7 linked regions of the Homo sapiens genome follow. The protein of the gene in region 1 interacts with the protein of each later gene in a pairwise test. Each region holds a gene or a part of one and is shown in the gene's direction. Other genes may lie near its edges. The genes, in order: KNSTRN, MAPK6, DISC1, MECOM, MPHOSPH6, ZDHHC17 and PPL.

Region 1 (3,500 bases):
TCACCACAACCTCCGCCTCCTGGGTTCAAGCGATTATCCTGCCTCAGCCTCCCAAATACCTGGGATTACAGGCATGCGCCACCACGCCTGACTAATCTTTTGTAATTTTAGTAGAGACAGGGTTTCTCTTATCTTGGTCAGGCTGGTCTTGATTTCCCGACCTCAGGTGATCTGCCTGCCTCAGCCTCCCAAAGTGCTGGGATTACAGGCATGAGCTACCGCACCTGGTGTGGGCCATACTGTTAACCCTTTTATCTTTTCATGTAAGTACAACTATTATTACAGCTACAAACCACTGAGTAAGCAAAAATCAGAGGAAGAGCTCAAGGACAAGAACCAGCTGTTAGAAGCCGTCAACAAGCAGTTGCACCAGAAGTTGACTGAAACTCAGGTAAGAGACCCACCAGAGCTCTGTTACCAGCTGCCACTGGGCGATCCACATGGAATCCTGATGGGTGGCCCCTTGGATGAGCAAGCTTGTTAATGCACAGATGCCCAAGGGCAGAAAAAAAAAGCCAGGCTTTTGCTATGGCTGTCCAAGAGCAAGGGCAAGAAAGGGCAACCACCCCTAGGGAGTTGGACAATTCCTGATCTGTCTGTGCTGTGCTCCAATAGGGAGAGCTGAAGGACCTGACCCAGAAGGTAGAGCTGCTGGAGAAGTTTCGGGACAACTGTTTGGCAATTTTGGAGAGCAAGGGCCTTGATCCAGGTAAGAGACAGCACACAGCTAGCCTCCTTTGAAGGAATTGGTGCATGTGCCCCTTCCGGGGTTGATCTTGGCAGCATGGCATCAGCTGGCCCAGTATGTGCAGGGGTTACTTTCATAAAGCCCTAAAGATTTTGGAAAGCTTCTGTTTGTTTTCATGTGATGTTGATTTTTGCCTGGCCAATAGGATTTCAGATGATTATAGAGAGAGGGTTATCTCTTTCTTACCTGAACACTTTATGCCATTCATTTAGTGCCAACAGGTATGACCTTGCAAATAGATGAGAAACACTTTGTTCCTTTCAAGGGAGAACATTTTCTGTCTCTTCCTATTTGGGAAAGTTACTAGTGTGCTTGAAAGGAACATTTTGTTTGAACATGCTCTTCCTTTCAAGCATACTAGTAATCCCAAATGGGAAGAGAAAGAAAATACTATTTCAAGCATTCTTAAACCTGGTTAATCATCAGAATTACAGTGACTAAAATATGACTACTATTCTGACCCTGTCCCCCAGAAAGCAGTATCTGTAGCAAAGAGAGCAGAAGAAGGAATTGCCCAAAGACTGTAAGAGGGCCTCAGACTGAGTCAAAGAGCCAGAGAATGCCCAGGAAAGGGGCCCAGGCCTTTTTGTATTAAGGAATACTGACTTTGAATGTTACTGGTTAATCTTTAGGTTACAGTTGAGGATATTCTTTTTTTTTTTTTGAGATGAAGTCTCATTCCATTGCCCAAGCTGAAGTGCAGAGGTGTGATTTCGGCTCACTGAAACCTCCTCCTCCTGGGTTCAAGTGATTCTCCTGCCTCAGCCTCCTGAGTAGCTGGGATTACAGGCGTGTACCACCACACCCAGCTAATTTTTGTATTTTTAGTAGAGATGGGGTTTTGCCATGTTGGTCAGGCTGGTCTCAAACTCCTGACCTCAAGTGATCTGCCTGTCTCGGCCTCCCAGAGTGCTGGGTTTACAGACATGAGTTACCATGCCCAGCCTAGGATATTCTTTATAGTCACCATAAATATATATGTTTTTAAATTTAAAATTGTTTATTTTTTTGAGATGGGATCTCGCTATGTTGCCCAGGCTGGCCTCCAACTCCTGGGCTCAAGCAATCCTCCCAAATAGCTGGGACTACAGGTGTGCACCACCACATCCGACACCATAAATATTTTGTATGATTTTAGTTTATTACATGCATGTGATATTACCGAAAGTAATAATTTTTTAAGGCCTGAAAGGCTCTTAAAAATAGCTTTGTGAATTGTGAACAAAACCAAAAAAAATCCAACCTATACATTTCCTTTGGACAAATTGTCCACTGACCTAAGGAGAAAGTATACCGAATTTTTGGCCATATCAAAACCTAGATTGAAAGGAGATAAAATACAGTTTTGCAGGGCAGATATGGGTGACCCTGCCAAGGTGAAAACTTAGGAGAAAGTCCAGGATGAGACACTTAAGAGAAATTCCCCTCATGAATATTTCTGTACTTGTCCACGGAGGGTTTTTATTTTCTTTTGTTTAGGGTGTGTAGTTCCCTAAGTGAGATTGACTTTGTTGTATCCATCAGCTTTAGGCAGTGAGACCCTGGCATCACGACAAGAATCCACTACTGATCACATGGACTCTATGGTGAGGGCATGGGTGTGAAAGGGCGCAAGGGCTGAGTGACTGTGGGGCTCTGTAAATCTAAGAAGGTCTCTGCTATATATTCCATAAACTCCAAGAAACAGCCTTTGATTATCTGTGATGCTAGAAAAGAGAAATGGGATGTGTACTCAAAATAGCATATTTTACTTGAAAGGTAGCTTTGTGCTTACAAATATAAGTGAGTCTGAATTGAAAATTTAAAACACATAATAGGTAAACCTGTAGAGAGAGCTTTCTCGTTCTTCTGTTCTATACTTTATCAAATTTCTCTCCTGACTCCTTTGTTGAGAACTGTGTGGAAAGGATGTTAGCCATCATCTAATGCAAGTCTGGTTTTATATGAAGATTTGTTTACTACATTGTGCTTTCCTCTTAGTTGCTGTTAGAAACTTTGCAAGAGGAGCTGAAGCTTTTTAACGAAACAGCCAAAAAGCAGATGGAGGAGTTACAGGTGAGAGGCAGACATCACCCTGACCATTTCCTACCATGATAGGTAGATTTATAGTGGGGTCTTTTCTGTTTTTCTATTTATTTTTAATAAACTTTCTAAATAATTTTAGATTTATAGGAAAGTTACAAAGATAATACAGAAAATTTACCCTGATAGTAACGTGTTTTTTTTTTTCCAACTTTTAAGTTCAGGGGTACACGTACAGGGTGTGTAGGCTTGTTACACAGGTAAACGTGTGCCATGGTGGTTAGCTGCACAGATCATCCCATCACCTAGGTATTGAGCCCAGCATCCATTAGCTATTCTTCTTGATGCACTTCCTCCTCCACCCCCAATAGTAACATCTTACATTATCCTGGTACATTTGTCAAAACTAAGAAATCAGCCAGGCATGGTGGCTCACGCCTATAATCCCAGCACTTTGGGAGGCTGAGGTGGAAGGATTACTTGAAGCCAGGAGTTTGAGACCAGCCTGGGAAACATAACAAGACCCCATCTCTACAAAATAAAATTTAGAAAATAGCCAGGCGTGGTGGTACATACCTGTAGTCCCAGCTGCTCAGGAGGCTGAGGCAAGAAGACCACTTGGGCCCAGGAGGGCAAGGAGATAAAGTCTCACTGTTGTCCCCCAGGCTGGAGTGCAATGGCGTGATCTCGGCTCACTGCAACCTCCGCCTCCCGGGTTCAAGCGATTTTC
Region 2 (3,500 bases), about 12 Mb from region 1:
GTTTATTTTTCCAAAGGGATTTGAGGAGTTTGTGGACAGTAAAGTGTTTGTTGTTTTTGTGAGACAGGGTCTTGCTCTGTCACCCTGGCTGGAGTGTAGTGGTGCGATCACTGTTCACTGCAACCTCTACTTCCCGGGCTCAGGTGATCTTCCTGCCTCAGCCTCCGGAGGAGCTGGGACTACAGCTGTGTGCGACCATGCCTGGCTAGTTTTTCGTATTTTTTGTAGAGATGAATGTTCACAGTGTTGCCCAGGCTGTTCTTGAACTCCTGGGCTCAAGCAATCTGCCTGCCTCAGCCTTCCAGAGTGTTGGGATTACAGGTGTGAGCCCCTGCTCCCAGCCCATAAAATGTATTGTTAATGTGAATTAAATTTTTGGAACTATTTTGGAAGAGTATTGCATGATTTATACCTAGAGGTTTTTTTTTTACAAAGTTTAATTCAAACTTAAAAAAAATTTCCTACTAGAGGAAACATAAAAATACAAATATAAAAGTATTGAAAATTTTCAGAGCATCACATTACTTAGAGGTTTAACGTATTTTCGGCATTGTTTTCAAATATAGGTAATTAGCTGTAGTGCATAATTCAGAGTTTAAAAACAAACTGAGGCCGGGGGCAGTGGCTAACGCTTGTAATCCCAGCACTTTGGGAGGCTGAGGAGGCAGATCACGAGGTCAGGAAATCGAGACCATCCTGGCCAACATGGTGAAACCCCGTCTCTAATAAAATACAAAAATTAGCTGGGTGTGGTGGCACGTGCCTGTAATCCCAGCTACTCAGGAGGCTGAGGCAGGAGAATCGCTTGAACCCGGGAGGCAGAGGTTGCAGTGAGCCGAGATTGTGCCAGTGCACTCCAGCCTGGGTGACAGAGCGAGACTCCGTCTCAAAAAAAAAAAAAAAAAAAAAACCGAAAAACAAACAAAATAACTGGATATCTTAGCCTGCTTCCTGTCTCCAAGGTACTGCTTTATGAAATGCTGAGCCTTCTTACCACTGCTATCCAGTTCTTTGTTACATTTGAACCTTGTGTTACTCTAGGTCCCCTGTTAAAATGGAAAGAAGATGCCTCAGAAGTAAATTCTGTGTGGCATTGTTGGCTGCCTTCATTAGTTCCTTCAGCCTGTTTTGTGGGCTGTTGAACATTACACTACAACCTGCCAGTGGTGTGGGAATTTTGCTCATTTTTATTGCTGAGAGCCTTGACTGAGACTTCACAAAAACAACTCCAATGTTACTGTAGTTAATGGCATTTTCCAGGGGTTGCTTTCATGTGAAGCTGATGCTTTTAAGGTGACAGTGATTTGGGCCTAGTCCAGCATTGATTGGTTTTTTCACCTCCATGAACTGCGTATTTGGAAAATAATGTGTGTCTCTCTAAGAGTTTTTTTGTTTGTTTGTTTTTTGTTTTTGAGACGCTGTCTCCCTCTGTTGCCAGGCTGGAGCGCAGTCGCGCCATCTCGGCTCACTGCAACCTCCACCTCCTAGGTTCAAGCGATTCTTCAGCTTCAGCCTCCCGAGTAGCTGGGACTACAGGTGCGCACCACCATGACCAGCTAATTTTTGTATTTTTTTTAGTACAGACAGGGTTTCATTATGTTGGCCAGGATGGTCTCATCTCCTGACCTTGTGATCCGCCTGCCTGGGCCTCCCAAAGTGCTGGGATTACGGGCATGAGCCACCGCGCCCAGCCAATAGAGTTCTAAAAGTTTTGTCTTTTATACATGTCAGTCTTCTAAGTCCATTTCTAAAAAATTGTTCAGAGATTGAATGTTTGTATAGCAAATACAATTTCCCATTGATTTTCGTTAAATTTGGTATTTTTTTCACAGAAAAAAATGGTATCATAAAACTTGTTTTTTAGAATCCTAGCATTTACCTCAGAAAAGTCTGCCTCTGCAGAAAGTGCAAATCTGTATGCATTTAATTCTGTACAATCATAAAACTTTAAAATATTAGTGTTTTGGAGGGGTCATGGGCATTATCTTGCTTCATTCATGTACATCGTTTGACAGCTAAGGAAACCAAGGCCTGAAGAGATCTAAGATCTTGGTACTGAAAGTGTGATTTCTGGACCAACAGTATTAGCATCACCTGGGAACTTGATAGACGTTAGAATCTTGACTTCATCTCAGTCCTACGGTCCTACTGAATTAGAATCTTAGAATCTACTTTTTCTTTTTCTTTTTTTTTTTTTTTGGAGACGGAGTCTCACTCTGTCACCCAGGCTAGAGTGCAGTGGCACGATCTTGGCTCACTGCAAGCTCCGCCTCCTGGGTTCACGCCATTCTCTTGCCTCAGCCTCCTGAGTAGCTGGGACTACAGCTGCTGCCACCGCGCCTGGCTAATTTTTTGTGTTTTTAGTAGAGACGGGGTTTCACCGTGTTAGCCAGGATGGTCTCGATTTCCTGACCTTGTGATCCGCCCGCCTCGGATCCGCCCGCCCGCCCAGCACTCCCAAAGTGCTGGGATTACAGGTATGAGCCACCGCGCCCGGCCTTCTTTTTTTGTAAATAAGAGGCACAATCTTGCCCTGTTGCCCAGTTTGGATTGGAGTGTAGTGGTGTGATCATAACGCACTGCCACCTGGAACTCCTGGACTCAAGTAATCCTCTCACCTCAGTAGCTGGGACTACAGGCATGTGCCATCATACACTGCCTTTTTTTTTTTTTTTTTTTTTTTTAAGAATTGGAGTCTCACTGTGTTGCCCATGCTCGTCTCAAACTCCTGGCCTCCTAACGTGCTGGGAAGAACCTGCATTTTAACAAGATTTTCAAGTCATTCAGTGCGCATTCAGTTTGAGAAGCACTGCTAAACGATGCATACACCTGGGCAACATAGTGAGACCCTGTCTCTACAAAATAAAATAAAATTAGCCTGTTGTAGTGGTGCACACCTTTAGTCCCAGCTACTTATGAGGCTGAGATGAGAGGATTGCTTGAGCCCAGGAGGTTGAGGCTGCAGTGAGCCGTGATCGCACCGCAGCGTTCCAGCCTGGGCAACAGCAAGAGACCCTGTCTCAAAAAATACGTAAATAAATAAAAATTAAAATGATGCATACATGGTTGCTCAGCTCGTTAGTCTTCTGAGTTGCTCTTTCCACTGGCCCTTCTGAAAAAAGTCAAATGGAAAATTTGGAAGCTAATCACTGCCCAGTTGAACTTTCTATGATGATAGAAGTGTTCTGTGCTATCCAGTGAGGTAGCCATTGGCCATGTGTGACTGTTGAATACTTGACGAGCAAGTAGTGCACTTGAGGAATTGAATTTTTTATTTAATTTTAATTCCTTTAAATAGTTGGGGCTGGGCGCCGTGGCTCACGCCTGTAATGCCAGCACTTTGGGAGGCTGAGGCGGGCGGATCACGAGGTCAGGAGATCGAGACCATCCTAGCTAACATGGTGAAACCCTGTCTCTACTAAAAATACAAAAAATTAGCCGGGTGGCGGGCGCCTGTAGTCCCAGCTGCTTGGGAGGCTGAGGCAGGAGAATGGCATGAA
Region 3 (3,500 bases), on another chromosome or scaffold:
CTTTTTCTTTTTTTAAAATCTAAAAATTTTGATTGGAGAAGGATTAGAGACTAAATTGTTGATATTTGAATTTTATTGTGGTTTTGGTTAAAGTTTGATGCAGGACCTTCAGAGCAAAGAGAGGGTACAATGGTGACCTTTAAACAATATATATATTTTTTGAGACGGAGTCTCGTTCTGTCGCCAGGCTGGAGTGCAGTGGCACGATCTCGGCTCACTGCAACCTCTGCCTCCTGGGTTCAAGCGATTCTCCTGCCTCAGCCTCTCGAGTAGTGGGATTACAGGCGCCCACCACCACATCCAGCTAATTTTTGTATTTTTAATACAGACAGGGTTTCACCATGTTGATCAGCATGGTCTCGATCTCCTGACCTTGTAATCTGCCCGCCTCAGCCTCCCAAAGTGCTGGGATTACAGGCATGAGCCACTGCGCCGGGCCCTTTAAACAAGATTTAAAGACCAGCACACAAAGTTTCTGAGTACAAAAAAAGGTAATATTTTAGGTTAGGGTCATTAGACCAGAATTAGAATCATTCTTTTTTTTTCTTTTTTTAATTAAAAAAGATGGGGTCTCCTTATTTTGGCCAGATTGACCTTGAGCCTCAAGCAACTTCTGCCTCGACCTCCCAAAGTACCAGGATTACAGATGTGAACCATTGCACCTGGCCAGAATCATTCTTTTGATAATAATGATGGTAATTGAGTTTATATGCTGTGTTCTCATGAATCCAAGCAGAGCCCACTGTTTCCAGAGATTCCCTTGGCAGCCACCCTGGGTTGAGGAGGGTCCCCTCCTGGCACAGCTGGAACCACCGGTGAAGAGCCATTTTTCAGTCAGCACCGTTTAGTAATATAAGACTTTTAGCCTCGAGGAGTCTTCCGTTGTTAGTTCCTAACTTTAATGACTTTGTGGTAAAAATTCCTTAGCGAATGACTTCTGTGCAACAATCATGTAATTTTTAAAATTCCAGATGCTTTAGCCGTTCAGAATCCATTTTTTCTTTCAAAACCAGAGTTCACCAGCTGTTTCTCTTGAGCGAAGACTTTGCAATGAGCTTTCAAATGTTCACACCAAGTAGAAGCAGGAAGGGAGAACTGTGGCTGGGCAATGAATGAAATACTGACATTTAGCTGTAGAAGGTAGGCAGGGGCTCACATGGTGTGCACAGCCCCTTATATGACTACTGGTCCTGTATCTGCTTCCTTTCCCTGCCCCATTTCCCCTTTGGCTTTTTGTCATGACTCAGAAATGGATGCTAGACATTATGGGGCTCCCTCCAGTCACTCGGGTCACTCGTCACAGACTTATAAACAGAATCACAGAACTTATTGTCAGATGAAGCTTCAAAACACCAGTTGGCTAAACTCCTTGTGTTCTGGCAGGTAAGATGTCGGCATCCTTATTTAACAAATGATGCTACTGAGAACTATGTATGCAGAGACATAGTCTCAAAATAAGTGCAGTCATGCCTCGCATAATGACGTTTTGTCAATGTCACATATGTGAGAGTGGTCCCATAAGATTATACTGGGCTGTCAATTTCCTAATGCCTAGTATTTACTATACATTTTAATGTTATTTTGTGTACTTCTACTTAGTAAAAAAAAGTTAACTGTAAACCCGCCTCAGGCAGGTCCTTCAGGAGGTATCAGAAGAAGGCATTGTTGTCATAGGAGATGATGGCTCCATGCGTGTTTTTGCCTTGAAGGCCTTCCAACGGGACAAGGTGTGGAGGTGGAAGGCAGGGATAGTGATGATCCTGACCCTGGGTAGGCCCAGGCTAGTGTGTGTGTTTGTGTCTTAGTTTTTAACAAAAAGTTTGAAAAGTAAAAAAATAAAAATTAAAAATAGGAGCTTATAGGATAATAAGGATATAAAGAAAAAATATTTTTGTACAGCTGCACAATGTATTTGTGTTTTAAGCTGTGTTTTTATAAAAAAGTCAAAAAATTAAAAAAATTTAAAAATTATTATATATAAAGTAAAAAAAGTTATGGTACGCTAAAGATAATTTATTGTTGAGAAAAAAATTTAAATGAATTTAGTATAGCCTAAGTGTACAGCGTTTATAAATACAGTAGCATGAAATTATGTCCTCAACCCTCACGTGCACTCACCACTCACTCACTGACTCACCCAGAGCAACTTCCAGTCCTGCAAGCTCCATGCATGATAAGCCTCCTATAGAGGTGTACCATTTTTCATCTTTTATAGTGTATTTTTACTGTACCTTGTCTATGTTTAGATATGTTTAGATGGAAAAGTACTTACCATTGTGTTACGGCTGCCTACAGTATTCAGTACAGTAACATGCTGCACAGGTTTGTAGCCTAGGAACAGTAGCTATACAATATAGCTTAGGTGTGTCATAGCCTATACCATCTAGGTTTTTGTGAGTACACTCTATGGTGTTTGCATGACAAAATGACCTAATGACACATTTCTCAGAAAGTGTCCCTGTCAATAAGTGATGCATGACTGTGATTGAAATAAGTAGCCCCACATTATTTTTCTCATGTCAACTTCAGGTTAATTTTCCAGCCACGTGGCCTTGTGCTTGCTCATCATAAAAAAATGTGGATAAAATTCTACCTGTTAAGCCACAACATTTGCCTGTCATGGGTGGACATTTACCGTTTATTTTCAGAGTTCAAAGTTTGAACTCTCAGAGAAATGCAAATAAGACAGTAAACTCCTCGAGGTGAGGAATGGCAATCTCTGAAGATAAATCATATATTTATTGTACAGTATTGAATGTTGTAAGTGGCAGTAGAGATCATGTAATCTGGCCTTCTTCTTTTACAGGTGAGAAAAGTGAGAAACAGCAGCAGAGTGATTGTTAGAACCTGGCTCCTCTTCTTTTACTTAGAACTGTTTTCATTAAGTTGTGTTTCATTTCATAGTTCTGTATAATTCATCCCTGCTTAAGATACATTAAATGAATTGAACTGAATCCCTTTTTTTTGAGCTATGATGGCTCTTAAAAACTTAGATTTTCAGCCAGGCGCAGTGGCTCATGCCTGTAATTCCAGCAGTTTGGGAGGCCAAGGTGGGCAGATGACCTGAGGTCAGGAGTTCGAGACCATCCTGGCCAACATGGCAGAAACCCATCTCTACTTAAAATACAAAAATCAGCTGAGCATGGTGGCGTGTGCCTGTAATCCCAGCTACTTGGGAGGCTGAGGCTGGAGAATCGCTTGAACCTGGGAGGCAGAGGTTGCAGTGAGCCAAGATCATGTCACTGCACTCCAGCCTGGGCTACAGAGAGAGACTCCGTCAAAAAAACAAACAAACAAAAAACCACGTAGATTTTCAAGTAATTACTATTGTTACACTAAATGTCAATGGATCCTTAAGAATCTATTTGTTCATGAATTCATTATTTATTCATTCAACGTTTATTGAGTGGCTACTTGGTTCAGAATTAGAATTAGCATGACAGCCACACATTAGAAAGGTATCACTTTTTGACTAAATTAAAAACTTGCTAAAAATAGTT
Region 4 (3,500 bases), on another chromosome or scaffold:
CTTGCAGTGCATAGGCAAGGAAGGGGAAGATCATCCTGTAATCAGCATATCTAATATTGTCCTTTTAATACTGCACCAACCCCTGGACTGGAGTGTTCTGAGTCAACTCACAGCTTCGCCCAGCAAACCAGGATGCAGAATTTTCAGTGTGCCTTTAAACTGTATTTTGTTATATGCTTTAGCATAGTAGCCAAAAAATAAATAAATAAATAAAAAGGCATGTTGACTGCAACCAGGACTTCATATAGAGTGTCTCTTGGCAGAATCTATTTAAAACTTGTTCATAATTTGTCTCACTCTAAATTCTCATTATGTGAATACAAATATTCTCATGTCACAATAGAGGTAAGGAAAAGCTAGTGAGAGAAGCACCTTCTTTGCGAGACTGTACTTCATGATTTCAGTGGTTCAATATATTCCCAAAGGACCGTCATGGGCATGTGTATTATGGTAAACTGGGGAGACTTTGACTTTCTAAAGTTATTATTATTAATATTCATAGGGCATGTTTTAAGAAACAGCACTGATCAAATTCATAAGGAGTGAGTTTCCAAATAAGTTGCTAGATAAACAATAATCTTTGTCATAAAAGGCTTTCTGCTCCACACAGGTACAGCAACATCGTCGCCTCATTCTGAACTGGAAAGTACAGGTGCGATTCTGGATGACAAAGAAGATGCTTACTTCACAGAAATTCGAAATTTCATTGGGAACAGCAACCATGGCAGCCAATCTCCCAGGAATGTGGAGGAGAGGTAAAGCTGTCTTTTACTTTTTAAACTCTGTGACGACTGAAATGAACATGTTTTAAAATATACTTGCTATGCTCACTTTTGTGGCACTACTATTACTTCAGTCACCAAAGACTGGTATATATTTAGTACATATTAAATACCACATTAAATGCTTCCAAGCATTTTACATGTGTTAATTAATTTAATTTCATCATAACCCTATGAGATAGCCACTATAATTTTAGCAGTGAAGGAATGGAGACATTGAAGCTTAAACCATTGTGTCAGAGGTCACATAAGTAATCAATGGGATTCAACCTGAGCTCTCTGGTTCCAGAGCCCATAATTTTACCAGGATTTAGCTATCTGATAGCTGAATAGAATCTGTTATCAAAATTTCAGAAGTAGAAGAGAAAGCCGTCACAGGGATTCAGTTGAATCACTGATCAATAGTGGCTACTATTATACATCATAAATTATATATATTACAGGTAATATATGATTCTATATACCTGTATTATACATAAATACATATATGTATATTCTGTATATATGTAATATACATATTATAGTACATATGTATGTATGCATTTATATATGAAATACCCATGGAGTTTCCCCCAAATATATTTTACATAGAAGCTTTTATAGTCTTCTTAAGATTCTATTGCTACTTTATGTCCTCTTAAGTGACTACTCATTTAATTCTGGTCTGTTTGTTTCAGTGGGTATGAACATCCTTGTTTTTACTGCCCTGATGCACTGGCTCCCTTTTATCATCACCAACATTAAGCATGAATAGCTTAATTCATTTAAAAAAGCTTTTAATGCTGTTAATGATAATACTTAACAGTTACCCAGCACTTCACATTGCATATGAAGTTAATGAAACACTATTTCACCAAAACTACTGGATTTAATTTTTCTTATCTGTAAGCTATAATTAAATATCTATTGTTGAGAAGTAGACTTTTCTGAACACGACTATATAGTGACCTATTAAATTCAGATGCTACATTGTAAATTTCAAAATAACATGAAATTAGTTAAAAGTTCCATTATTTTTCATCATACAAGTATTATTGGATTAGTGTCCTCTGTTTTTGATGTTATCAAAAGTCAAAATTAATTATTTTATGTAATTTTTTCAAGGCAAACATCAAATAAACATTTTTTACTAAAATAACAAAAAAAATGACCACTTCTGTTTTTCAACTTGTATAAAAGTGTATCAAAGAAAAACAAGAAAAAAGACCCTTCCAGTCTCTGAGAAGTCTGATAACTACACCAGTGTGCAGTTGGATGTACCTTTCCCTTTACTTGCCCATTTGTGTGTGTGTGTGCGTGTCTGTCTGTCTGTTTGTGAAAGGGAGAGAGGAAGCAGATGATCAGAAGGACAAAGTAGCAAGAACAAGCAAGAAACAGTGACGATCTTATACTTTGATAATGATATTTACTTGATGCAAATAAGAACTGTTGAACAAAACACACCATTTGGGTTCTGAGATGCCTATTCAAATTTTCTAGCCTTTAATTGGCGATTTGTGAGCCTGTATAGTTGCAACATCTGGCTTCAGCATGTCTAAACAGCACAGAAATAAGAAGGTTGAGTCATCTAAGTTTTTCCCCTGAACTCCTACCAGGCTACTTTTGATGAATAATTTATTCTCTGTAAATTGCCACATTTGAAAACTTAATTAACAAATAGATTTTCTTAATTATGTTGGCTTTTGTTACTTTTGATTTTCATCCATGCACTCTTTTTGTTCTTTTACTTTTTCTTTCTTTTTTTTAAATAAAAATTTTAATCCACTCATGCAAGCAAGTTGGCAGTGTGTTTGGAAACTAATTTATGTCTGTGCAAAAGATGTTTTCACCATTCTTTGATAAAAGAGGTTAAGCGATTGTTTTTATTAAAAGCTTAATAATGATATGACTTTTTCTGGTCAAATGGATTTTTACTATGTGTGTTTGTCACATCCAAGATTGTTTTATTTATTTTTTAATCCTGGGAAATCTGAATATTAAATTATACTCATTTTTGTTATGTGGGAAAGTGATGGGGGTACATTGTAATACCTGAGCTTTTTCCACCCTGGCGTTTTCCTGAGAAACAAGGAACTATTTCACATTCAGACTGTAAAAAATAATTTGAAAATAGTACAAATAAGTGAGCTGTCAATTACTTCCAAATATGGGTAGAGTGGTTAGGTGGAATGTACCACAAATGTCATCTAGTATCAGTAAATACCAGTTGTTTCTTGGTAACTACTTTAACATTGTCTTTGGACTTTTAGAGTCACTTTAGGCATGTGTATTGTAGCTACGGCCCATGAGTGATATGAATTTTCCAGAAATCTATTATTTTAAATGGTGGGTACTTACATGGCAATTAGGTAAATTGTGCTGAGAACATACTTATGTGCCTTTTTATATGATATATATAGCAATATCAATTATCAAGCAAAGTCTGATAAGAAATGGGAGACCAAGATTGTTTTTCGGGTTCTGCCAGAGGCTTCATTTATAATCTGAACAATCATACAATTATTTTTTTCTTTATCTTCCCATTTGTGAAGTCACATTATTTTTTCATGGTTGACGTAGAGCATAAACAATAAAACATTTCCGATGTTAAGTGTTGAAAATCTAAACTGTTGTTGGGAAGACATAATAAAGGAACAAATTACAATTTTAAAAATGAAACCAACAATTGGACTTTTTTTTTAATGCTTTTGAAAGAATGAATGGCAGTCATTTTAAAGA
Region 5 (2,781 bases), on another chromosome or scaffold:
GATATAAATGTTTCATGTTTCATTCATTATTTGGCCCCTCTTTCTATAGACTGTAACCTCCAGGAGAGCAGAGGCTCCTTTTTTTTCTTTTTTTTTGGAGGTGAGTGTTTGACACTGTCACCCAGGCTGGAGTGCAGTGGCACAATCTTGACTCATTGCAACTTCCACTTCTGGGATGCGAGCAGTTCTCCTGCCTCAGCCACCTGAGTAACTGGGACTACAGGCATCCGCCACTGTGCCCAGCTGAGGCTCTTTTACTGGTGGCTGTTTCCGCAGTTTGATTTAATACACACAGTTTGGTTTAATAAGTGTTTGTTGCATAAGGGAATCTTTATGAGAATCAGAGCCTACTCCGGCAAACAAGCCTTAAAAGCCACATGTTTGCTTTCCTGCCATGCTTTAGGGTTTATGGCCAGGCTGGAGATAGATATGTCACCTTGGATTTACGGTCATGTGGTGGTGACTCAGCAGAGAAATTCTGCTGCAGACAGAAACATCCTGGTCCAGGGAACGCAACCTGCCCCAATGCCATCAGTGGTGTCGTGCTCAGCCCCGTCAGCAGCAACAGTGGTTTTCCTAGGGTCATTCTCTAGCATGATTTTGGTTCTGGTGCAACCACCTAGCGACCGTTATTTCTGCCCGTCTTCCAATTCTGCCCCTTCAGCCTTCCCGGTGATTCTGAGATGCCCAGTACAGCTGGCTCTTTGTGTCACAGATTTTGATATCTACAAGGGGTCCTGGAACCAGTCCCCCTTGGAAATGAAGAGCCTACAGTGTTCTTACAGTAAATTCCTTCTCTGCTGAAGTCATCCAGGGTCAGCCTTTGGTGTTTATAGCTAAGAGCTCTGACTGATAACACTGTTAAAGCTGCTCAAGCCTCTGATTTCCCACTACTTCTCCTGGATTTGTAATAAGAATTTGGTGGGGGCCAAAATCTCAGAAGTCACCACTAAAGAACTTATCCATGTAACCAAAAAACCACCTGTTCCCCAAAAACTATTGAAATTTTTTGAAAAAAATCTGTGTATAAGTGCACCACACAGCTCAGACCTGTGTTCAAGAATCAACGTAAATGCAAGTACAAAAAAGACTGGAAGGAAATATTCAAATATACTAACAGTCCTTTTTATCCTCTTGGTAAGGAGCTTACAGGCAGTTTATAAACTCATACTTTATTCTGCTTTCCAAATTACGTTCCTTAAAATGTGCTGCTTTGATAATTAGAGAATGGAATTTTTGAAATCCCTGAGAACGAAAGACAAAATATGCCAGAAACTTTATTAAAATGATTTGGAGTAGTGTGTCACTGTATACTGTATGTGTATTTTTACATACATATTATTTCCTTTCTGAAAAAGAATTGGAAAAAAATATGGTGAGGGGATGTAAACACAAAAGAAACTTTGCTTCAACTTTGGCAAATTCAAGTTTATTGTCAATACTTTAGATCTTTATATTATGTAGATATTTATGCAAATTAAATGTGGTGTTTAAGAGAGGCTGTGCCTCTAGCTTGCTGCTCTTGTCTCCTAATGCCTTTGCTGACCAAATTAATCAGATTTTATTTTTAACCCTAAGTTAGAAATCTTACTGTATTTTTACTTCATTCTACTGAGAACCATAGGTTGATTATTTTTTTTATTCAAAGTGTTGGCTTTTGTTTGCTGTGCTTTATATATGGAGAAATGCTATTTTTATTTTCCCATTTAGGAGTTTCATAATAGAAGAGCAGAGTTTCTTACTATGTGAAGATCTTCTCTATGGAAGAATGTCATTCAGAGGATTTAATCCTGAGGTTGAGGTATTAAATATAATTGCTTCAAATTAAAAATTTTTCCAATTGAATTTTTTTCTGCTAATAATTGGGCTTAGGTGTTTCTCCACCAGGTACCATTTCTACTCATTATATAGAAAATAACAAGTCTTGAAATATCGCCATAGCTATTTAAAGAAATTGGAGGCATTGCAGTCTAGTTTTATGGTAGAGGTGAGTAGATAATTTCATATAGCAGTATACAGCCCTTGACAGAGCCACCATAAATATTAAAATTTCAAGTTGTGTCTTTTACAGGAACGTCAAGATTTTATTCATATCATGCTATTATGAAAAGTTATTTTCTGGCACCTATACATGTATTTTTTCTAACGGAAAAATGTTACTTTAGAATTATGTCATTTGACTTTTTAATGGACTGTTGTAATCCAAGCTTGTAAGTAGATTTTTAAATGAATCCTTTCGACAGTTTGTTTGAAAAATGAATATTTGCCTTATAACTGAGCTATTCATTTGAATTTTCCTGCTCCAGGATAGAGAAGCAGACCTTTATTTAACAAATATTCATTAGAACTCTGGCTCATATGTTAAAAGCCATCCTATCAAGTACTTGATGAACCAAATGGACACATGAGATATAAATCTTTAGTTTGGTAAATATTACTTGAAGCCAGTGTTTCTTGCCCTTGGCAGTGTTAACATTTGGGGCCAGATAATTCTTTGTGGTGGTGGCTTTCCTAAGAGAATGACGAACCACATCCCTGTCCTCTGTTCTCTACCAACTAAATATCAGTAGCACACACACACCCCACCCTCCTACCCAGCTGTGACAACCAAAAATGTTTCCAGACATTTTCACAGGTTCCCTGGTGGGGAAAATCATCCCCAGTTAAGAACCACTTCTCTAGGAGCCACAGTTAACTAAGCCAATTGCCAGAGTTTATTGAAAGATTCTAGGTTAGTTTTCCTTTTCTTTTTTGGCGGAGTGGGAGGAGGCATGTGTGATA
Region 6 (3,500 bases), on another chromosome or scaffold:
CTTGATTTTTCAGCTTTAGATAGTTTTCTTTGATTCATGGCTACTATAGATGAGGCTCTCAGCATATTTTCATTTCAACCTTTTTCCATTTTCCCATTTTGTTGTTAATTATATCAATTTTACATTGTCAGGGTATATAACATTTCCATTCAGTTTTGTCATTCTATTCTTCACAATCGTTTTGTTTTAGTTATATTGTTAAATATATTTAGTGCTCACTACCAATTCTTTTGGATGATTTTCAGGAGAAAAAGGGGAAAATGCTAAGTTATGGAGCCCTGTTGATCATGGAATTCCCATAAGCTTTTGATCTGGGCTTGTTAATTCTTCCTAATAGAGAATACCCATACGTCCAGGCTGAACTTGGAAAAGAAGTACCAAGTTTTAAATCCCGACCCAAAGAGAGAAAAGGTTGAATTTCATTTTTCTTTTAGTACTCTAGAGATGTGCCATGATTTTACATTTTTTTATTTATTGATATTTTTAATACTATCATTTTTTAAAAAGGATATGAAAACACAACTAAGAAGAAGGAGAAACTTAAACATAAGAATTTACATGCTTGCTTTAATTAGACCTGAAATTTGGTTGAGGTCCTACGGAAATTAGGAGTAAAAGAAGTCACAATAGTTACTTCTCATATAAGAAATAAGGAAGTTTGTTGTTTCTTCAGAAAACATATTTTTTTTAAGCCACAGGATTATTTTAAAAAATGTACTTGCATATTGGAAATGTTGAGTGAGGTTGCAGAAGATATTCCTGACAACACTATTAAAGTAAATCCAGAAATGGATTTGTAATGGATAAGGCATAACATTCTATGACAGTATGCATGGTGAGTGACTAAGTTAATGACATCCAAGGAAATGCTTTACTTATCTAATGTAGTGGTTCTCAGATTTTTTTTCTTCAATATGCTTAGATAATGTTCACATTTGAGACATATTCCTATTGCTAACAGTGGCTCACAGAGAACTGATGCATAGAGATAGTGTTTTACAGTGTGCTTACTGTAACTCTCTGCTCTCTCCACTGATTGGTGAATTAGGTAACACAACTTGGATTAGAACTGCTTGCTTAATGTAATTCAGGAATGGGAGATGGGGTAGAGAAGAAGAAGAAACTTAATATTTATTGAATATCCATTATGTTCTCAGCTGTTGACTAGATGCTTTGCACACATTATTTAATCTTCACAGAAGTCTTATGAAGTTATTTGTATTTCACATTTTTTAATGAGGAAGCTAAGACTAAGAATTAAAGTAATTTAGCCTACAATCTCATAGCAATTATATGATGGAGCTAGGAAGTCAAAACCATGTCTTATTCTAAAGCCAAGCCTAGAAAAGTAGATAGATAAGCATGTCTTTTCCTTTAATAAATGGTTTTCGATCATCTACTCTGCTGGGCACTGAGAATACGAAGATGGATTTGAGATGATTTTTATTTTCAAAGTACTCCAGGTTAATGAGACACACATTTCAGGCATAGAGGATAATCAGTTCAGAATGGAGTGGGTTAGGAAAGGTAGTTTCAGAGCATTGAAACTGATAAGAGTCCCTGATACATCAGAAAGTCTTGCGCAAGGAGAATTAGATAACTAGGAAAGAGTTTCGGTTTAATAGGTGGAAGTTTTAGTTATAATTTGCTAAAAACTAAGTAGTAGTGGGGGAAAGATGGTGCCAGGGAAAGCAAAAAATTGAGTAGAAGAGGAAAAATAGTGGTTTATTACATGGTTTGGCTGGGAATAGTATTTATGCATATTTATAATAATACATATCAAGTATTAAATGTTTATATGAACCAGAATTACAATAGATCTCTTGAGAGGAAAGAATAGGAAAGGCGTGCATTTGTGATGTAGCAGAGAGGAAAGAGAAAAATTCAGATTTTTTGTACCAAGGAATTTCAGAATAATGCCTGAAACTGAAAAATCAAGAAGTAGCAATTCAAACATCTTATTTAAAGATATGGAGGTAAATATAAAAATAATGAGCCAAAAAATGGTGAAAATGGTGGGAAGTAAGGCAGGGGGATTGCTTTAGTGTGTTGCTTTTTCCACACAAACTGCAGAATCATTTAACTCTAAAAATGTACATGTGTAACAGTAAAAACTGAGTATATTAAAATGTCAGTTCTTTTTATTTTTTGTTTTGAAATGCCTAGGAATAAACAGTTTTGTCGTTCTCTCTTATGCATTAGTATAAACAAGTTTTTCAGAAACTTAATCACTTAACCTATCCTTTGTGGTTGAAAGGTCAGAATAGGTTAAGAATTTTAAATGTGAAACATTGAAAGGCTGATTAAAACATCTTAAAAGGGAATAATGTAAAAGCATGATATATGTTCACTAGAGTATATAGTGACAAGAGTTTCATTTTAAAGTTAAGAAAGAAAGTTTCATACATTATCCTTGATTGAGTAGTATTATATTCGCTTCTCCTTTTATATATAGATTAGATTTTTCCAAGCAAATTTGGTTAGGAACTTATAATTTAACTGTCTGACTTTTTTTCTTTTTACTTTATCAGGATGTAGATATGATGGATCAGAATGGAATGACGCCTTTAATGTGGGCAGCATATAGAACACATAGGTATGTAATGACTATAAAAAACTTATTTAGGCCATTTCAGCATAATACAATATGAAGTAAGAGAGAGGAAAAAGCAGTTAATACTATACTCACTAATATTTACAGTTTTTATTATGACTATAGTATATATAAATTACCATTTTGGATGTTCTGGTATCTCTGTGCTGTCTCTCCCTCACTGATTAGAGCTTCCTTAATCTGTTTCTCTTTTAACAATATCTAAGAAAAGAAGTTATCTTTTTTTAAAAATTAATTAATTTTTTCATGTGATTTACATATTGACAAATTTATTAATTAGTAAGTTGTCTTAGATCACTTTTGGAAGACTCCAAATTTAAATTTTAAAAAGTGTTATTCTTGAATTGTATAAGTATTAATGCCATTTCTAGGTCAAAAATAGAAAATATCAGGACCAAGTTGCTTATCCCCTGAAACTATTAATATATTATTTTATATGGTGTCATACATACTTAATACTTCATATTAGAATATTGTCTCATTATTGATTTTAAAGTTGTTGAGTAGGTTAGAAGTGTTCCAAAATGGAATGCTACTGTAAGCATAATCAGTTTAGTATTTGTAATGATTTCTATAATTGAAATTAGGGTTGTTGTTGTTGTTTGTTTTTTTTTTTTTTCCTTTTCAGTGTGGATCCAACTAGATTGCTTTTAACATTCAATGTTTCAGTTAACCTTGGTGACAAGTATCACAAAAACACTGCTCTGCATTGGGCAGTGCTAGCAGGGAATACCACAGTCATTAGCCTTCTTCTGGAAGCTGGAGCTAATGTTGATGCCCAGAATATCAAGGTAAAAATATTCTATATTGATAATACTGTATGAAATGTGGCTAATATGTGAATTCTGTAATAAAACAAGTTTTTCATAGACTGTCAGAGTTGAAA
Region 7 (3,500 bases), on another chromosome or scaffold:
CTTGGTAGCTCTTATCTCAGCAGCTATGTGACTCCGGGGTAGCCACATGTGGCTGTGTGGCTGCCTTCCCCCAGACACTGGTGCTACACGCGTGCTGAATGAATGAATGAATGAGAGTAAGCCATGGGGGACTGCTAAGATTCTCCCCTTCCCTCAGCATTTCAAGAGAGCATACATTGCCCTGCGCTTCACACCCCAGGACCAGCAGAGCCCGGAGGTGGGGATGAATGGGGCAGGGGTTCCAGCTAGTGGAAAGGAGTGCGAGGCCTGAGCAGGCTGCCCCCTGCCCTGTCCCCATCCAGTCACCTCCTGCGTGCAGGACGGTGAGCAGAGAGTTGGCTGAGTACACAGCTGGCAGCAATGCGGAGTGATAGTGAGATAAAGGAGGGCCCTGACCCAGCCACACAGGCTTCTTCAGGAGAGGTCCTCCACGCCGAACCCGGGGATCAGTTGGAGATGAGAGGATAAAGAGAGTGCAGTTGACAGAAGGTGACGGGGATGTGTGTATCCACGACCCGAAAAGGCATGACAGTGAGCAAGCAAAGCAAGTTGATGAAGGATGCAAAGATGATGCTTGCATATATACATTTTTAGAAACATACACAGAGCAATTCCACTTACTCTTCCTGAATGCAGATGTGTCTATGTATTGGAAAGCTTAGGGAACCAGGTGCAGTGGTTCGCACTTGTCCTAGCGCTTTGGGAGGCCAAGGCGGGAGGATGACTTGAGGCCAGGAGTTGAAGACGAGCCTGGGCAACATAGTGAGACCCTATTTCTACCAAAAAAAAAAAAAAATTAGCTGGGCATGGTGGTGCATGCCTCTAGTCTTAGCTACTCAGGAGGCTGAGAGGGGAGGATCCCTGAGTCCAGGAATTCAAGGCTGCAGTGAGCTGTGATTGTGCCACTGCACTCCAGCCTGGGCAACAGAGCAAGACCCTGTCTCTAAATAAATAAAATAAAACAGGCTTAGGAAGAACCAGTAAATCTAAAATTCTGCTACTCCTAAGAAGGGGCCTGAAAGGATAATGAACAATAACATTTCTCTTCCTTTTTAGAAAAATCTGCAGCAAAGATGGTACTGTGAAAACATCAACCAAACCGTGGTGGTGGGGACATGCGTGGCTGATTCTTTTCAGTACTTTTCTGCATGTCTGAGTAGATCACGAGTTTTCCAGTTTAGGTGAAGGGTGGAGTAGAGAAGGCGAGCTGGCGTGGGGCACAGCTGGCGGGGGGCACAGCGTGGGAAGAGCCTGCAGGCAAGCCCTGAGTCCTGGGTCTCAGAGTCCAGTCCATAGCAAAATAAAAGGTCTGGGAGAGGAAGAAGAGGGACCTCAGGAAGCAAAGGGGGCCCAGTCCTGGAAGGCAAGCAGGCAGGTTCTGGATGGGGAGACAAAAATGGAGAGTCTCTGCAAGGAAGTGAGAGGGGAGGGGACCAGAACTGGGAAAGGTATGAACACAGAAAGGCCTTGAGGTTGGGTGCTAGCTTAAAACCATCACCCTAAATTATGATTATTACATTGTCTGAGATAAATTCTACCCTCAGCTCTCGTTCCAAGTGAGGCTCAGAGAGTTTGAGTGACTCGCTCCAGGACTCTCGGCAGATCTTTTTTTTTTTTTTTTTTTTTTTTTTTTTTAAGGTAGAGTTTCACTTTTGTTGCCCAGGCTGGAGTGAAGTGACACAATCTCAGCTCACTGCAACCTCTCTGCCTCCTGGGTTCAAGTGATTCTCCTGCCTCAGCCTCCCAAGTAGCTGGGATTACAGGCGCCCACCACCACGCCTGGCTATATTTTGTATTTTTAGTAGAGACGGGGTTTCACCATGTTGGCCAGGCTGGTCGCAAACACCTGACCTCAGGTGATCCACCTGCCTCGGCTTCCTAAAGTGCTGGGATTACAGGCATGAGCCACTGCTCCCAGCCAAATAGAGTTTCTTATCTGAGATTGAAGCAGGGTTGAAGCCCTGTCTCTTCTTTGTGGTACAAACTTGGAATCCTTTCCCACCCTTCGATGGGAAACAAACCATCGCCATGGCGAAGGCAGAGAATTTGAAACCCTAAAAGGTATCAGCCTGAAATCCTAGCCCAGGCAGTGGGGGCAGCAAAAAATTCTGCAAGTTCTATTTCTCCCACAGCCCTGCGGCCTTGCAGGCTCAGCCAGCAGCTCTGGTGTGTTTTATCTTACAAAGCATGACAAAAACCCTCTGCCTAGGAAAGGATGGGCGGGGCGGCCAGGACACCCTGCCAGCCCTCTCAAAGTGTCTGGGTAAGAACTGCTGAGATGGCCGGGCACAGTGGCCCATGCCTGTAATCCCAACACTCTGGGAGGCCTAAGGTCAGGTGTTGGAGACCAGCCTGGCCAACATGGTGAAACCCTGTCCCTACTAAAAATACAAAATATATTTTGTGTTTGAGCCCAAGAGTTGAAGGCTGCAGTGAGTGAAGTGCAGCAATGCACTTCAGCCTGAATAACAGAGCAAGACTCTGTCTCAAAAAATGAAAAAGGAGGCTGGTGCTCTTTCTCCAGTGGTCCTGAACCCAGAGTGACATCCTGATGCCTTGGGGCACCAAAGTTGGCTTGAGCCCTGTTTATCCCCCGAGTCTAGGAATTCAAAGCTGCAGTGAGCTATGAATCCTCCCACCTCAGCCTCCTGAGCAGCCAGGACTAGAGGCATGCACAACCATGCCCAGCTAATTTTATTTATTTATTTATTTTTGGTAGAAATAGGGTCTTGCTGTGTTGCCCTGTCTTCAAGACCTGCCTTGGTGTTACCTGAAGCAGCTTGAACTTCTGTATGTTTGTAAAAGGAGCCCAAAAGCACTCACCTGACACAGAACCCTAGGCCCCATCAGAGGCCTGGAGGCAGGGCGGCCTTCCCTGGGCAGAAACAGATTAGGCCTTAAAAACAGACCTGGAATTACTACACCAGCAACCTTCTCATCTTAGGATATATTTCCACAGGATTAATAGCTGGGTGTGAGGACATTTACTGTCTAATTAGCACAGGAGTTTCTAGTAGTGAGAGAATCAGTCAATTGACCAATCAATCTGGTATTCATTGGGCACATTCTGTGTACTGCTTTCTCACAGGGCTTCCTTCCTATAGAGATCTAGGATTCTTCGGCATCTTGCTTCTTTTAAACCTTGCTGTGGTTCAGTTCCTTGTTCTCATCCCTGGCTGTACATTAGAATCACCTGAGGAGTTTTGAACAGCATGTCAGAGCCCTTTCCAAGACCAGTTAAGTCAAAATCTCCATGGACATGGGTCCAGACATCATTCTTTTGATGTGCAGCTGTTGGGAACCACATAGTTACATGGATTGCCTCGCTCCCTCTTGTCTTTGAGATATATGGACAGTGCTTTCTCTCTTCAGTATCAGTTGCCTGGTATGTCACTCTCCATTCTTTATTCTCAACCTTCCTGTATCATTTAGTTTCAAGTGTGTGTGTCTTATAAAATGGCATATAGCTTGGGGAAGGTGTGTGTTTTGTAATCTCACCG

What was found.
Region 2: the proteins of KNSTRN (region 1) and MAPK6 interact in a two-hybrid assay, tested with the Homo sapiens proteins (one large-scale study listed by BioGRID and IntAct).
Region 3: the proteins of KNSTRN (region 1) and DISC1 interact in a two-hybrid assay, tested with the Homo sapiens proteins (one large-scale study listed by IntAct).
Region 4: the proteins of KNSTRN (region 1) and MECOM interact in a two-hybrid assay, tested with the Homo sapiens proteins (one study listed by BioGRID).
Region 5: the proteins of KNSTRN (region 1) and MPHOSPH6 interact in a two-hybrid assay, tested with the Homo sapiens proteins (one large-scale study listed by IntAct).
Region 6: the proteins of KNSTRN (region 1) and ZDHHC17 interact in a two-hybrid assay, tested with the Homo sapiens proteins (one large-scale study listed by BioGRID and IntAct).
Region 7: the proteins of KNSTRN (region 1) and PPL interact in binary tests that used the Homo sapiens proteins (3 or more experiments, as listed by UniProt).

Annotation. Positions count from the first base shown.
Region 1 is NC_000015.10:40,389,221-40,392,720, forward strand, and holds part of KNSTRN (small kinetochore-associated protein), read left to right. Parts: intron 1-285; coding exon 286-391; intron 392-615; coding exon 616-709; intron 710-2,272; coding exon 2,273-2,334; intron 2,335-2,728; coding exon 2,729-2,803; intron 2,804-3,500. UniProt on the Homo sapiens protein: Essential component of the mitotic spindle required for faithful chromosome segregation and progression into anaphase.
Region 2 is NC_000015.10:52,022,219-52,025,718, forward strand, and holds part of MAPK6 (mitogen-activated protein kinase 6), read left to right. Parts: intron 1-3,500. UniProt on the Homo sapiens protein: Atypical MAPK protein. Phosphorylates microtubule-associated protein 2 (MAP2) and MAPKAPK5.
Region 3 is NC_000001.11:231,629,790-231,633,289, forward strand, and holds part of DISC1 (disrupted in schizophrenia 1 protein), read left to right. Parts: intron 1-3,500. UniProt on the Homo sapiens protein: Involved in the regulation of multiple aspects of embryonic and adult neurogenesis. Required for neural progenitor proliferation in the ventrical/subventrical zone during embryonic brain development and in the adult dentate gyrus of the hippocampus.
Region 4 is NC_000003.12:169,090,213-169,093,712, reverse strand, and holds part of MECOM (histone-lysine N-methyltransferase MECOM), read left to right. Parts: intron 1-610; coding exon 611-755; intron 756-3,476; coding exon 3,477-3,500.
Region 5 is NC_000016.10:82,150,444-82,153,224, reverse strand, and holds part of MPHOSPH6 (M-phase phosphoprotein 6), read left to right. Parts: intron 1-1,710; coding exon 1,711-1,801; intron 1,802-2,781. UniProt on the Homo sapiens protein: RNA-binding protein that associates with the RNA exosome complex. Involved in the 3'-processing of the 7S pre-RNA to the mature 5.8S rRNA and play a role in recruiting the RNA exosome complex to pre-rRNA; this function may include C1D.
Region 6 is NC_000012.12:76,812,615-76,816,114, forward strand, and holds part of ZDHHC17 (palmitoyltransferase ZDHHC17), read left to right. Parts: intron 1-2,531; coding exon 2,532-2,596; intron 2,597-3,242; coding exon 3,243-3,405; intron 3,406-3,500. UniProt on the Homo sapiens protein: Palmitoyltransferase that catalyzes the addition of palmitate onto various protein substrates and is involved in a variety of cellular processes.
Region 7 is NC_000016.10:4,927,149-4,930,648, reverse strand, and holds part of PPL (periplakin), read left to right. Parts: intron 1-3,500. UniProt on the Homo sapiens protein: Component of the cornified envelope of keratinocytes. May link the cornified envelope to desmosomes and intermediate filaments. May act as a localization signal in PKB/AKT-mediated signaling.